Linked DNA regions of Homo sapiens: region 1 is linked to region 2. A link means that fine-mapping ties the variant in region 2 to the expression of a gene that starts in the linked region. Tissue or cell type: blood mononuclear cells. Region 2 holds a variant in brackets; the other region holds the start of a gene. All regions are shown on one strand. Distances are from middle to middle.

What was found. PIP is the estimated chance that this variant, and not a neighbour inherited with it, causes the effect.
Region 1: it holds the start of NDUFB11, and the variant in region 2 is fine-mapped to the expression of NDUFB11 in blood mononuclear cells (TOPMed, PIP above 0.99). The same link has a PIP of 0.9 or more in fibroblasts, gastroesophageal junction, lung, stomach, subcutaneous fat and unexposed skin.

What each region holds. Positions count from the first base shown.
Region 1 is chrX:47,142,172-47,147,263 of GRCh38, forward strand. NDUFB11 (NADH:ubiquinone oxidoreductase subunit B11) reads right to left here and starts at 2,531. Exons shown (of 3, transcript NM_001135998.3): 1 at 2,302-2,531; 2 at 443-573; 3 at 45-269. The coding sequence starts at 2,508. The coding sequence ends at 146. It overlaps RBM10 (RNA binding motif protein 10), which reads left to right and starts at 3,050. Exons shown (of 24, transcript NM_005676.5): 1 at 3,050-3,314. RefSeq lists an enhancer at 3,074-3,343.
Region 2 is chrX:47,108,589-47,119,214 of GRCh38, forward strand. No RefSeq gene overlaps it. Among named protein-coding and RNA genes, the nearest start is that of NDUFB11, 31 kb to the right of the region's middle. The variant G/A (reference allele first, on the strand shown) is at 4,732.

The DNA of each region.
Region 1 (5,092 bases), 31 kb after region 2:
CCCCCATCCCATATCCCCTTCACAACACAATCAACACTAGCGAGTCAGACTTTCAGCCCCTTTAATTAGGTGCTCTGAGAAGAGGTCAGAATGGCAGGCAGGGGGTGGGGAAGGCGGTGCTTCTTGAGCCCCACTTAGCAACTGGTCACTCATCCTCTGGCAGCTGGATCTTGCTGGGGTCGAAGCAGTTGGATTCCATGATGGGAAGGCCATTGGCCTCTCGGTATTTCACAAGCCTCTCAGCTTCGCGGCGGGACCACTCTTTCATCCTGGTAGTGCAAATAGCAGGGGTAGACGTGAGGGAGCCTCAACTGATACCAATCCCTCATCTCAGCTCCCCATTCCCAATGGTGCAGGAACAAAACTCCTGGCAGAATCCCCTTCAACCTCCATCCCTGCCTCTGCCTCTTACCCATCCCACGCTCTTGGACACCCTGTGCACCTGTAGTCAGGCAGATAGGCCACAAAGGTGCTGCCAAGGACCAGGATGATGGAGACGCCAAAGAAGAAGACAAGTCGCATGTTCCAGACGTCCAAAACGGGGTCCTTGTCATAACCATGGGAGTCTGGGTTCTGTGGAGAAATAGAGGTCAATGAGGGCTTCCTGCTGCTCCACAAAGCCTTATTCTGGCCCTGCATAACTTGGTCTCCATGTGCCCCTCTCACTAAATTCCTCTGTTTCCATTCTTGGGATATGTCAAGCTCCTTCCCACTGCAGGGCCACTGCACTTGCTGCTCTCTCTGCCTGGAAAGCCTTTCTTCCAGCTCTAGTCATGGCTGGATCTGTCTCCTCATTCAAGGTTTTAGATTCATCACCACTTCCTTCAGGAGGCACTCCCTAGTTACCTTGTCTTTCAAAGTTGAAGCATAGGAAACTGCTATTTTTATAGGTCACAAATGGTTGAATACTGGCAATTTCTTATAGCTCAAGCTAATGAAATAGCCCCCTACACCCAAGTCATTCTCTATCCACTTATCTTGCTTAACTTTGTCTTCACATCCTCTCTTCCTTCTGTCTCTTTCTAGTCTATGTTTACCTAAGTAGCATACTTTCCCCATTCTCTGTATATCATACATTCTCATGTTATATTATCTATTATACTACTTTGTATTATTGTTTTCTAATATTTTACTGTTTATTTTCTGTCTTCCCCACTATCATGTAAGCTCTATGAGAGCATGGGCTTTGTCTGATTTCCACACTGCTGTATCCCCAGGGCCCTGAACTGAGCCTGGCATACAGCAGGCCCTCAATACATATTTACAGAATGAACAAGCATCCTATATATCCAAGCCCCTTAACCAGAGGTTAGTATTGATGAAGTACTTATTATGTGCCAGTCTTTTCACATAGAAACACCTCACAATATCTCAGTGAGGTGAAACATGGCAATAATAAACACATTCTAGTGCTGAGTACATACTTACGAAGTGCCAGCTGCTGTTCTGACCATTTTTACTCATTTAATTACATGAGGCAGGTGGGGTGTCCTATTTTTTAGAAGGTGTCCTATTACTGTTCCCATCTTACAGACAAAGAAACTGAGGCACCAAGGGTTTATGCTACCAAGATCACACGGGTGGGTAACCGTCAGTGCTGCCTGATTTCACAGCGTCTGCTATTAATACAGCACAGCAGACCTGGTAGCCCTAAATTCAAATACCAGTTCCACCTCCACCATGTATTCAGTTATGTGAGCTAGGGCAATCCACTTAACATCTCTGTGCCTCAGTTTCCTCATCTGTAGGATGAGTATAATAATAGAGCCCACCTCGAAATGGGGTTTGTTTCGAGTATAAGATGAGCTAATGCATGTCAAGTGTTTAGAACACAGACGGGGCCCGGAGCGGTGGCTCATGCCTGTAATCCCAGCACCTTGGGAGGCCGAGGCGAGAGGATCGCTTGAGCCAGGAGTTCGAGACCAGCCTGGGCAACATAGCGAGATCTCGTCCCTATAAAAAAAAAAAAAAGAATGCAGACGGCAACGAGCAAGTGCCATATCGGTGTTTAGTATTATCGTTGTACTATACTGCTTCTAACGTGTTTTGAGCGCTGTCCACTTGAGGTGTGATTTCTGTCTGCAAAATAAAACCAATCCTGCCTCTGGCCCTGGAACGAAGATACCGAGAGACAAAGGAGGAACACAAGGTAGGCAAAATTCCCAAGTCTTCTAGGCTTTCGCCGGCCGCGCAGTCCTCTACTGCCTAAGAACGTCCTCTACAGCGCCCCATCTGCCGATCCCGGACTGACCCCTTCGGGGTTCCGTCCCCACTACCCCCCCCCCCCCCCCCGCCTCTCACCTTCTCATACAAGTTTTCGTCCTCGGGTTCTGGGTCCTCTTGCCACGGTGTGGTCGGTTCTGGGGGCCGCTTTCCCGCCACAGCGGACGGGGCGACCACAGTCCTGGAGAAGCTAGATTCCCAGCGGACGCGGGCGGCCGGGAGCCCTCGCGTCGCCGCTGCCGCCAAAAGACGGCGAGCGCTCAAACCAAACAGCCCAGCCGCCATGACAGATGGTGCTGCAGGGTCTCAGGGGCGGGGAAAGAAATGCGACTGTGCGCAGCTGCAGTGGGTGCGAGCGCGACAATCATCGCCCCGCCTCCGCCACGCTATATAGGTCCCAGATCTGATTTGGTTTTCCAATGAGGCGGGGCGTTGAGCAACCCTCTTTGCCTCCAGTTGTCGTGGCTTCGTGGGGCCAACCATTTTCGGCCAGGCTGAGAAATTTCTTATTGATGGGTCTGCTCATTTCCTGCATAGGAAGAAATCGGTGACATTTGGGTGGATACAGTTCCCAGCCAATCGCCCCGAGTTCCCTCGCCCACTGGGGAAAGAGGCAGAGCTTCCGCTAGTCTTTCATCTTCAAAGGAAATCAAGCTTCTAAAAAGCGGGCCCTGCCGAATTGGCTAATAGCTACTCCTTTTCTCCACTAGGGGAGCGTTCGCAAGGGGTGTGGGGAGGTGGCCAGCGCTTGCCAATCAGAGGAGGCCAGGGCTGTCCCCTAGCGGGCGGTGACCAATCGCCGGGGCCGGCCAGAGCGCGCTTCCTTAGTAGGTGGATGGTGGTCGGAGCGCCGACTCCCTTCTCGTCGTCGCCATTTTGAGCTGGTGACTGTGGCCGGCTGGGAGTAGGCGGCAGTGAGTTTCCCTGGGAGGGCAGCGCGCTTGGCGCTTCTCCCCTCCCCCCGATCTGCCTCCAGTCTCGGACTTGGTTGTTGCGCGCTCCGGCTCCGGCTGAGCTGGGAGAGTTGGAGGAGGTGGCGGCGGGCAGAGGTGATGTCTGGGAGCCCTTCCTTGACAGCCCGGGCCGAGAAGGTGAGCGTCGACGCTGGTCGTGGGGGCGGAGGTAAGGGGCCCGGGGCGGGGACGTAGAGGAGGCGCGAGGGCGGACTTCGGGTCGGGGGAGATGCGCGGAACGGAGGGGTTGGTGCAATGTCTCAACCCGGGAGGGTTTTTTTTTTTTTGGTTTTTTTTTTTTTTTTTTTTTTTTTTGGTGTGAGCAAAGGCGCGTGCGCGACTGGGACATGGGATGGGTGCATGCGGGTTGGGGGAAGGGAGGGACGGATGGGAGTGGGCTACTGTGGATCACTGTGTCGGCTACATCGAAGTTTATCAGTGGGGAAGCGGTTGTCTGCGACTTTGAGTTTGTGCATAGGAGAGGGGATGCTGCTCTGTGTTACTCTGGTGTTTATCGGTCCATGGGGAAATATTCTGTGGTTCTGGTCTCTATTCCTGGGGGATCGGAGGGGGGATGTGACTCTGGTCTTTACCCTTTGAGGGGGGGCGGTCTGTGACTCTGATCCTTATCCATGGGGCGGGGCTTGGGGGACGACTGTCTTTTGATTGACCCTAACCCACTTATTGGGTGGGAAGGGGCATGCAGGGAATGTGTGTGTGACTCATTGCCCCTTCTTTTGGGGAGTTTGTATCTGTGACACTGACGCTCATCCATGGAAAGGGGACCCACTGTGTAATTGTGGTCCTTACTGTGTGTTCCTTCTGTGATGTGGGCCCGTAGTTATTTGGGGCTCGTGTCTGTGACTGGCCCTTGGCTGTGGTGGATGTTACTGTGTGACTCTGGCCCCTTTGCCAGAGTCTCTTGAAGGTTTTTGTGCTCTCAGACGCCAGTGCCTCTGTGTGATTCTAACTCTTGCCCACCTGGGAGCAGGTAACTCGGGTTCCCTGTGGCTTGAGGAGGAAGAGAAAATTGGAGTGTGTTTGTCTGTGTATGTGTGTGCACGAGCATAGAGCAAAGGTGTGGCAGCAACCTAGTGTTGAGCAGGTGCTATTATTGCCTGGCTTTACCTGCTTCTTATTCAGAGGGTGGGGCCTGAAGATCTGGGATTCATCCTGACCTCTGGCTGGGTCACAGGGTTCTCAGGACTCCCTGAGTTCTCACCACAGCCCTGAGGGTTGGATGAAGTGGCTGCTGCTCCATCCCAATAGAAGAGCACAGTGGTTCAGAACAGCCTCCAAAAGGGCCCCTTTTGCCTCTGGAAACCGGGCTTGAGCCCTGGGGAGGGAACCACCTTAGGACCGGGCTGCACATAAGAGACAGGGCTCAGGGCTGAGCCAGTTGCTGTGTGAGGGCCAAGGCTGTGTTGGCCAGGAGCCCAGGGAGGTGGCAGCTGTCTCGTCGCCAAGTTCGCCCCTTCACACACCCCCCCAAGAGCCTTTCATGGTCTTTTGCTGCCTTATAGGGGACAGCCAGCAGCTTGTTGGGAGGATGAGATGGTCCCTTGGGGCCTGTGGAAGGAGCCTGGGGCCCCCATTGTTGTGAAGTCTTGTCTGATGTGCTGAATCTCAGGCAAGACTTTCAGCCCTGAGAGTCCCCTACCCCCACCCTGGGATGCAGCCCCAGGCTTGAATTTGTCTACCTGTCTTAGGTGGCAAAGCCCTGATCACACTGTGGGTGGCCCCGCCAGGTCTCTCTGCAAGATGCCCCCTGTCTGCTGAAGTCCTTGCTGTTTTCTAGGGCAGTGGGCTCTAGCCTTATGTTTGCGGGGAAAGGGAGGAGCAGGCCAAGTAGGGGCTACCTTCATACTGTGATGCACAGGAGTGCTGGGAGCTGGAAGACAATGTCCCTGGGCTAA
Region 2 (10,626 bases):
TGCTCCCACCAGTCAGATTGGAAAAAACGCATAATTTATGAGGTATTGGGTAGAGTCCTCAGGAAGTTCTTTTCTCAGTTGTGGAGAATAATTAGCCCTACACAAAGCACTGCTCGACTCCATCAAACAGATCATAAAAGCTAGACCTTAAAGGATAAAAATATTTCCAAGGAAACTTAACTGCAACTCAACAAAGTTCAAGAAGATTTATATTGAATACAAAAATATCCAGCACCCAAAAAGAAAAAAAAAATCACAATGTTTGACATCCAATCAAAACTTAATAGGGCCGGGTGCAGTGGCTCACGCCTGTAATCTCAGCACTTTGGAAGGCCGAGGTGGGTGGATCACCTGAGGTCAGAAGTTCAAGACCAGACTGTCCAAAATGGTGAAACCCTGTCTCTACTAAAAATACAAAAAAATTAGCCAGGTGTGGTGGCGCATTCCTGTAATCCCAGCTACTCGGGAGGCTGAGGAGAATCGCTTGAACATGGGAGGCGGCCACATCAGTGAGCCGAGATGGCGCCACTGCACTCCAACCTGGGCGACAGAGTGAGACTCCGTCTCAAAAAAAAAAAAAGAAAAGAAAAACTTAATGGGGCCAGGCACAATGGCTCATGCCTCTAACCCAGTACTTTAGAAGGCTGAGGAAGGTGGATTATTTGAGGCCAGGAGTTCCAGAGCAGCCTGGGCAACATAGCAAGACCCTGTCTCTACAAAAAATTCAAAAATTAGCTAGGTGTGGTGGCGCATGCCTGTAGTCCTAGTGTGTCCGGAATTGGTGGTTTCTTGGTCTCACTGACTTCAAGAATGAAGCCGCAGACCCTCGCGGTGAGTGTTACAGCTCTTAAGGTGGCGCGTCTGGAGTTTGTTCCTTCTGATGTTCGGATGTGTTCGGAGTTTCTTCCTTCTGGTGGGTTCGTGGTCTCGCTGGCTCAGGAGTGAAGCTGCAGACCTTCGTGGTGAGTGTTACAGCTCTTAAGGCGGTGCTTCTGGAGTTGTTCATTCCTCCCGGTGGGCTTGTGGTCTCGCTGGCTTCAGGAGTGAAGCTGCAGACCCTCGTGGTGAGTGTTACAGCTCATAAAAGCAGTGTGGACCCAAAGAGTGAGCAGTAGCAAGATTTATTGCAAAGAGCGAAAGATCCAAGCTTCCACAGTGTAGAAGGGGACCCGAGCAGGTTGCCACTGCTGGCTCGGGCAGCCTACTTTTATTCTCTTATCTGGCCCCACCCACATCCTGCTGATTGGTAGAGCCGAGTGGTCTGTTTTGACAGGGCGCTGACTGGTGCGTTTACAATCCCTGAGCTAGACACAAAGGTTCTCCACGTCCCCACCAGATTAGCTAGATACAGAGTGTGGACACAAAGGTTCTCCAAGGCCCCACCAGAGTAGCTAGATACAGAGTGTCGATTGCTGTATTTACAATCCCCGGGCTAGACATAAAGGTTCTCCAAGGTCCCACCAGAGTAGCTAGATACAGAGTGTCGATTGCTGTATTTACAATCCCCGGGCTAGACATAAAGGTTCTCCAAGGCCCCACCAGAGTAGCTAGATACAGAGTGTCGATTGCTGTATTTACAATCCCTGGGCTAGACATAAAGTTTCTCCAAGGCCCCACCAGAGTAGCTAGATACAGAGTGTCAATTGGTGCATTCACAAACCCCGAGCTAGACATAAAGGTTCTCCAAGGCCCCACCAGAGTAGCTAGATACAGAGTATCGATTGCTGTATTTACAATCCCCGGGCTAGACATAAAGGTTCTCCAAGGCCCCACCAGAGTAGCTAGATACAGAGTGTCGATTGCTGTATTTACAATCCCTGGGCTAGACATAAAGGTTCTCCAAGGCCCCACCAGAGTAGCTAGATACAGAGTGTCGATTGCTGTATTTACAATCCCTGGGCTAGACATAAAGGTTCTCCAAGGCCCCACCAGAGTAGCTAGATACAGAGTGTCGATTGCTGTATTTACAATTCCTGGGCTAGACATAAAGGTTCTCCAAGGCCCCACCAGAGTAGCTAGATACAGAGTGTCGATTGGTGCTTTCACAAACCCTGAGCTAGGCATAAAGGTTCTCCAAGGCCCCACCAGAGTAGCTAGATACAGAGTGTCGATTGCTGTATTTACAATCCCTGGGCTAGACATAAAGGTTCTCCAAGGCCCCACCAGAGTAGCTAGATACAGAGTGTCGATTGGTGCTTTCACAAACCCTGAGCTAGACACAGCTAGGGTGCTGATGGTGTATTTACAAACCTTGAGCTAGATACAGAGTGCCGATTGGTGTATTTACAATCCCTGAGCTAGATATAAAGGTTCTCCACGTCCCCACCAGACTCAGGAGCCCAGCTGGCTTCACCCAGTGGATCCCGCACCTGGGCTGCAGGTGGAGCTGCCTGCCAGTCCCGCGCCGTGCGCCCGCACTCCTCAGCCCTTGTGTGGTCGATGGGACTGGGCGCCATGGAGCAGGGGGCGGTGCTCATCGGGGAGGTTCTGGCCTCACAGGAGCCCATGGAGGGGGTGGGAGGCTGAGGTATGGTGGGCTGCAGGTCCCGAGCCCTGCCCTGCGGGAAGGCAGCTAAGGCCCGGCGAAAAATCGAGCGCAGCACTGGTTGGCTGGCACTGCTGGGGGACCCAGTACACCCTCCACAGCCACTAGCCCGGGTGCTAAGCCCCTCATTGCCCGGGGCCGGCAGGGCCAGCCGGCTGCTCCGAGTGCGGGGCCCGCCAAGCCCACGCCCACCCAGAACTCCAGCTGGCCCGCAAGCGCCACGCGCAGCCCCGGTTCCCGCTCACGCCTCTCCCTCCACACCTCCCCGCAAGCTGAGCGAGCCGGCTCTGGCCTTGGCCAGCCCAGAAAGGGGCTCCCACAGTGCAGCGGTGGGCTGAAGGGCTCCTCAAGTGCTGCCAAAGTGGGAGCCCAGGCAGAGGAGGCGCCAAGAGCGAGCGAGCGAGGGCTGTGAGGACTGCCAGCACGCTGTCACCTCTCACTAGGTATTCTAGAGGCTATTTGGGAGGATTGCTGGAACTCAGTAGTTCAAGGAGGCAATGAGCTATGATGGCATCACTGCACTCCAGCCTGAGTGACAGAGCTGACCCTGTCTCTAAAAACAAACAAACAAACAAAAAACTTACTAGTCAGGCCGGGCATGGTGGCTCACGCCTGTAATCCCAGCACTTTGGGAGGCCAAGGCAGGTGGATCATGAGGTCAGGAGTTCAAGACTAGCTTAGCCAACATAGTAAAACCCCGTCTCTACTAAAAATACAAAAATTAGCTGAGTGTGGTGACGGGCACCTGTAATCCCAGCTACTCGGGAGGCTGAGGCAAGAGAATTGCTTCAGCCCGGGAGGCGGAGGTTGCAGTGAGCTGAGATCGCACCACTGCACTCCAGCCTGGGCGATAGGGCAAGACTCCATCTTGGGGGGGAAAAAAAAGCTTACTAATCATGCAACAAGGCAGGAAAATATGAAGACAACAGTCAATCAAGGAAAACCAACCCAGATTTGATGCATAAATTAATTAGCAGATAAGGACATTAAGAGTTATTAAAGCTATGTTCCACAAGTTCATAAGAGTTCAACAAGAGACATAGAAGATATAAAAATGACCCAATGGTGCAACATTTTTAAAAGAATGAATTTTAAAAACTGTCAACCTAGGGAGCAAGATGGCTGAATAAAAGCCTCCTGATCATCCTCTTCACAGGAATGCTGAATTGAACACCTATCCACACAATAAAGCACCTTCATAAGAACCAAAAATCAGGTGAGCAATCACAGTACCTGGTTTTAACTTCCTATCACTGAAAGAGGCACTAAAGTGGGTAGGGAAGACAGCTTTGAATCACCTACACCACCCCGCCCCCATCCCCTGGTAGTAGGTGTGTGGCAGAGAGAGAGAATCTGTGCACTTGGGGGCAGGAGAGCACAGCAATCGTGAGACTTTGCGCTGGAACTCGGTGCTTCCCTGTCACAACAGAAAGCAAAAACCGGAGAGAACTAAGCCGGCACCCATAAGGGGAGCACTTGGACCAGCCCTAGCCAGAGGCAAACTGTCCATCCCAGCAGTCAGAACCTGAGTTTTGGCAAGCCTCACCACCGTGGGCTAAAGTGCTCTGCAGTCCTAAATAAACTTGAAAGTCAGTCTGGGCTACAAGGACTGCCGTTCCTGGGCAAGTCCTGTTGCTGTGCTGGGCTTGGAGCCAGTGGATTTGGACACACAACCCAGTGAAACATCAGCTGGGGTGGCCAAGGGAGTGCTTGAGCCACCCCTCTCCCAACCCCAAGCAGTGCAGCTCAAACCACTGAAAGAGATTCCTTTCCTCTACTTGAGGAGAGGAGCGGGGAGAGTAAAGAGGACTTTGTCTTGCAACTTGGAAGCCAGCTCAGCCACAGTAGGATATGGCACCAGGCAGAGTCCTGAAGTCCCCATTCCAGGCCCTAGCTCCCAGATGACATTTTTCACACTTTTTTTAGAAGGAGTCTCATTCTGTCACCCAGGCTGGAGTGCAGTGGTGCGATCTCGGCTCACTGCAAACTCCGCCTCCCAGGTTCAAGCAATTCTCCCTGCCTCAGCCTCCCAAGTAGCTGGGATTACAGTCACGTGCCATCACGCCTGGCTAATTTTTGTATTTTTAGTAGAGACGGGGTTTCACCATGTTGGCCAGGCTGGTCTCAAACTCCTGGCCTCAAGTGATCCGCCCACCTCGGCCTCCTAAAGTGCTGGGATTACAGGC[G/A]TGAGCCACTGTGCCTGGCCCCAAATGACATTTCTAGACACACTTTGGGCCATAAGAGAACCTGCTGCCTTGAAGGGAAGGCTCTAGTCCTGGTATAATTCAACATCTGCTGACTAAAGAGCCCCCGGGCCCTGAATAACAAACAGTGGCACCCAGGTAGTACACCATGGGCCTTGGGTAAGACACTGAAACATGCTGGCTTTAGGTGTGACCCAGCATATTCCCTGCTGTGGTGGCCACAGGGAAAGACCCCCTCTGCTTGAGGAAAGGAGAGGAAAGAGTAAAGGGGACTTTGTCTTGCAGTTTATGTTCCACTTCACCACACGGGGGTAGAGCACCAAATAGGCTCTTGGGGTCCCTGATTCCAGGCCTTGGCTCTTAGACAACATTTCTGGACCTTCCCTGGGCCAGAGGAAAGCCCACTAGCCTGAAGAGTGAGTTGCAGGCCTGACAGCATTCACAACAAGCTGAATAAGGAGCCCTTGGGCCCTGAGTGAATAGCAATGGTAGCCAGGCAATATTTGCCAAGGACCTGGGTCAGTTTTGGCCATGGAGAGAGACTCCTTTGCTTATGGAAAGGGGAAGGAAGAGTGAGAATGACTTTGTCTTGTGGCTTGGGTGCCAGCTCAGCCACCATAAAATAGAGTACCAGGTAGATTCACAAGGTTTCCGTGCCCAGGCCCTGGCTCCTGGATGGCATCTCTAGGCCTGCTCAAGACTGGGGAAACTTGCTGCTCTGAAGGGAAGGACACAAGCCAGGCTGGCATTGCCACCTGCTCATTGTAGAGCTCTAGGGCCTTGAGTGGACATTAGTGGTAGCCAGGCAGTGGTTACCATGGGCCTTGGGCACGACTCAGTACTGAGCTGGCTTCAGGTTTGACCTGGTGCAGTCCCACTGGTGGTGGCCACCGGGGTGTTTGTGTCACCTCTCCCCTAGCTCTAGGTGGCTCAGAACAGAGAGAGAAACTGTGTGTTTGGGAGAAAGTAAAGGAAGAGAACAAGAATGTTTCCCTGGTAATCCAAAGGAATCTTTTGGATCTTATCCAAGACCACAAAGGTGGTACCTCTATGAGTCTACAAGAGCCACAGTGTTATTGGGCTTGGAGTCCCCCCAATGCAAATATGGCTTTGATGACAAAAAACATAGATCACAACACCCAAGTCCCTTTGAATGCCTGGAAAGGCTTCCCAAGAAGGTTGGGTACAAACAAGCCCAGGATGCAAAGATTGCAGTAAATACCTAACTCATCAATGCCCAGGCAAGCATTATGACCACCCAGGAAAACATGACCTTACCAAATGAACTACATAAGACACCAGGTATCAATCCTGGAAAGACAGAGATATGTGACCTCTCATACAGAGAATTCAAAATAGCTGTCTTGAGGAAACTCACGGAAACTCACAGATACTCAAGATAACATAAAGAAGGAATTCAGAATCCTATCAGATAAATTTAACAAAGACATTGCAATAATGAAAAAAGAATAAAGCAGAAATTCTGGAGCTGAAAAATGCAATTGACAGACTGAAGAATGCATCAGAGTCATTTAATAGCAGAATTGATCAAGCAGAGGAAATAATTAGTGAGCTTGAAAACAGGCTATTTGAAAACACATAGTCAGAGGAGACAAAAGAAAAAAGACGCCAGGCGTGGTGGCTCACGCCTGTAATCCCAGCACTTTGGGAGGCCGAGGTGGGCGGATCACAAGGTCAGGAGTTTGAGACCAGCCTGGCCAAGATGGTGAAACCCCACCTCTACTAAATATATAAAAATTAGCCAGGCCTGTAATCTCAGCTACTCAGGGGGCTGAGGCAGGAGCATCACTTGAGCCCAGGAGGCAGAGGTTGCAGTGAGCTGAGATCGCGCCATTGCACTCCAGCCTGGGTGACAGAATAAGACTCCGTCTCACAAAAAAAAAAGAAAGAAAGAAAGAAAGAAAAAAGAACAAAAAAGAAAGAAGAATGCCTACAGAATCCAGAAAATAGCCTCAAAGGGCAAATCTAAAAGTTATTGGCCTTAAAAAGGAGACAGAAAGAGAGATAGGGAAAAAAGTTTTCTGTTAAGGGCTAATAACAGAGAACGTCCCAAACATAGAGAAAGATTTCAATATTCAAGTACAAGGTTACAGAACACCAAGCAGATTTAACCAAAATAAGACTACCTTAGGATATTTAATAATCAAACTCCTGGCCAGGCGTGTCAGCTCATGCCTGTAATCCTAGCTTTCTGGGAGGCTGAGGTGGGTAAATCACGTGACCCCAGGAGTTTGAGACCAGCCTGGGCAACATGGCAAAATCCCATTTCTTTCTACCCAAAAAAAAACCCACAAAATTTAGCCAGATGTGGGGTCATGCGCCTGTAGTCCCAGCTACTTGAGAGGCTGAGATGGGAGGATCACTTGAGCTCAGGAAGCCAAGGCTGTAGTGAGCCATGATTGCACCACTGCACTCCAGCCCAGGCAACAGAGCAAGATCCTGTCTCAAAAATAATAATAAAACCCCAAGGGACAAGGATAAAGAAAAGACCTTAAAATCAGCAAGAGAAAAGAAACAAATAACACTATGGAGCTCTAATACATCTGGCAGCAGACTTCTCAGTGGAAACCTTACAAGCCAGGAGATAATGGCATGACATATTTAAAGTCCTGAAGGAGGCTGGGCACAGTGGCTCACGCCTGTAATCCCAGCACTTTGGGAGGCCAAGGCAGGCAGATCACCTGAGGTCGGGAGTTCAAGACCAGCCTGACCAATATGGAGAAACCCTATCTCTACTGAAAATACAAAATTAGCCAGGCATAGTGGCACATGCCTGTAATCCCAGCTACTCGGGAGGCTGAGGCAGGAGAATCGCTTGAACCCAGGAGGCAGAGTTTTTCGTGAGCCGAGATCGTGCCATTGCACTCCAGCCTGGGCAACAAGAGGGAAACTCCATCTCAAAAATAAAAAAAAAAAACAAAAAAACACTAAAAGATGTGCCAGTTGAAAATGATAACTACGACAGCATTTCAAGACATAGTACAATAAGATAGAAATAGGAACAACAAAAAGTTAAAAAATGGGGGATGAGGTTAAAGTGTAAGAGTTTTTATTAGTTTTCTCTTTGCTTGTTTGTTTGTTTGTTTGTATGTTTATACCATCAGTGTTACTTTGTCATGAGTTTAAAATAATGGGTTATAAGATATTTGCAAGGTTCATGGTAACCTCAAACCAAAAAACATACAACAGATACACAAAAAATAAAAAAGCAAGAAATTAAAACATACCACCTGAGAAAACCACCCTCACTAAAAGGAAGACAGAAAAAAGGAAAGGAGGAAGAGAAGACCACAAAACAATCAGAAAACAAACAACCAAATGGCAGGAATTGATAAAGCTCAACATCCCTTCATGATAACAATCCTCAAAAAACTGAGTGTAGAAGGAACATATCTCAACACAATGAAACCGTATATGATAGACCCACAGCTAGTGTCATTCTGAATGGGGAAAAACTGAAAGCCTTTCCTCTAAGACCTGGAACAAGACAAGGATGCCCACTTTCACCACTGTTACTCAACATAGCACTGGAAGTCCTAGCTAGAATAATCAGACAAGAGAAAGAAATATGGCGGGGCAGGATGACTCACAAGTGTAATCCCAACACTTTGGGAGGCCAAGGTGGGCGGATCAACTGAGGTCAGTTCAAGACCAGCCTAGCCAACATGGTGAAACCCCGTCTCTACAAAAAATGCAAAAAAAATTAGCTGGGTGTGGTGGCGTGCGCCTATAATCCCAGCTACTCCGGAGGCTGAGGCAGGAGATAATCGCTTGAATCCAGGAGGCAGAGGTTGTAGTGAGCCAAGATCGAGCCACTGCACTCCAGCCTGGGTGACAGAGCGAGACTTCGTCTCAAAGAAAAAAACGAAAGAGAGAGAGAGAGAAAGGAAAAAGGGCATCCAAAGTGGAAAGGAAGAAATCAAATTATACTTTTTTGCAGATGATCTGAGCTTATATTTGGAAAAACCTAAAGACTCCACCAAAAAACTATTAGAACTGATGAACAAATTCAGGAAAGTTGCAGGATACAAAATCACCATACAAAAATGAGTAGCATCGAGACCCCCATCTCTACAAAAGCATAAAATAATTAGCCAGGTGTGGTAGCACATGCCTGTAGTCACAGCTATTTGGAGACTGAGGAAGGAGAATTGCTTTAGTTCAGGAGGTTGAAGCTACAGTGAGCCACACTATAAGAAATGTTACAGAAGCCGGGCACGGTGGCTCATGCCTGTAATCCCAGCACTTTGGGAGGCCGAGGCAGGCGGATCACGAGGTCAGGAGTTCAAGACCAACCTGGCCAATAAGGTGAAACCCCATCTCTACTAAAAATACAAAAATTAGCTGGGTGTGGTGGCATGTGCCTGTAGTCCCAGCTACTTGGGAGGCTGAGGCAAAATAATCGCTCGAACCCAGGAGGTGGAGGTTGCAGTGAGCCAAGATCACGCCACTACACTCCAGCCTGGGCAACAGAGCGAGACTCCATCTCAAAAAAAAAAAAAAAAAAAAAAAAAAAAGAAATGTTACAGAAATGCATCAAGCAAAAGGAAAATTCTCCAGTTGTAAATAAATAAATGGTAATTATATGGATAAATATATGTATTTTCTATTATTTAAATATTTTTAAAATATAATTGGCTCCTTAAGATTTACAACATATATAAAAGTGGAACGCATTAACTAATAGCATAAAGGCTAAAAGGAGAGAGATAAAAGTATAATATTGTAAGGTTTTTTTATACTACACATGAAGTGATATACCCCTTGAAAGTGGACTCTGATAAGTTAACAATGTATACTATAAACCCTATATGTATAAATATAGTAACAATATATACTATATAGTATAACAATGTATACTATATAAGGCAACCACTAAAGCAAAAAACAAAGACTTATAGCTTATTAGACAACAAAAGACATGAAATAGAATCATAAATGTATTTAATTGATCCAAAAGAACACAGAAAAAAATTAAATTTGGAACAAAGAACAGACGGGACAAATAGAAAACAAATAGGAAGGTGATAGAATCAAATCTAACTACCACATCAATATGACATTAAATATAAGTGGTTTAAACACTCCAATACAAAGGCAGACATTGCCAGATTGGATAAAAAAGCAAGACCAATCTCCATGCCCCCTACAAGGAATGCACTTCAAATACAAAGACGCTAATTAAAAAAAGTAAAAGGATAGAAAAAATATATCATGCTCATATTTTCAAAAAACTTGGAGTGACTATTAATATTGAAAAAGGTCAATTTCAGGGATAAAGAAAGTCAAGAAGATATTAAGAGCCTTAACATTTATAGCCTGAAAACAGAGCTCAAAATGCATGAAGCAAAAACTGATAGAACTGCAAGAAGATATAGACAAACCCACAATCATAGTTGGAGCTTTCAATAAGCCTTCGTGTTTTTGTTTGTTTATTTGTTTTTGTTTTGTTTTTTGTTTTTGAGATGGAGTCTTGCTGTGTTGCCCAGGCTGGAGTGCAGTGGCGCAATCTCGGCTCACTGCAACCTCCGCCTCCCAGGTTCAAGCGATTCTCCTGCCTTAGCTCCCTCAGTAGCTGAGATTACAGGTTCCCACCACCATGCACAGCTAATTTTTGTATTTTTAGTAGAGACGGGGTTTCTCCATGTTGGTCAGGCTGGTCTTGAACTCCTGACCTCAGGTGATCCACCCACCTCAGCCTCCCAAAGTGCTGGGATTACAGGTGTGAGCCACCTTGCCGGCCTCAATAAGCCTCCTTTTTTTTCTTTTTTCTTTTTCTTTTTTTTTTTTTTTTTTTGAGATGGAGTCTCACTCTGTCGCCCAGGCTGGAGTGCAGTGGCGCGATATTGGCTCACT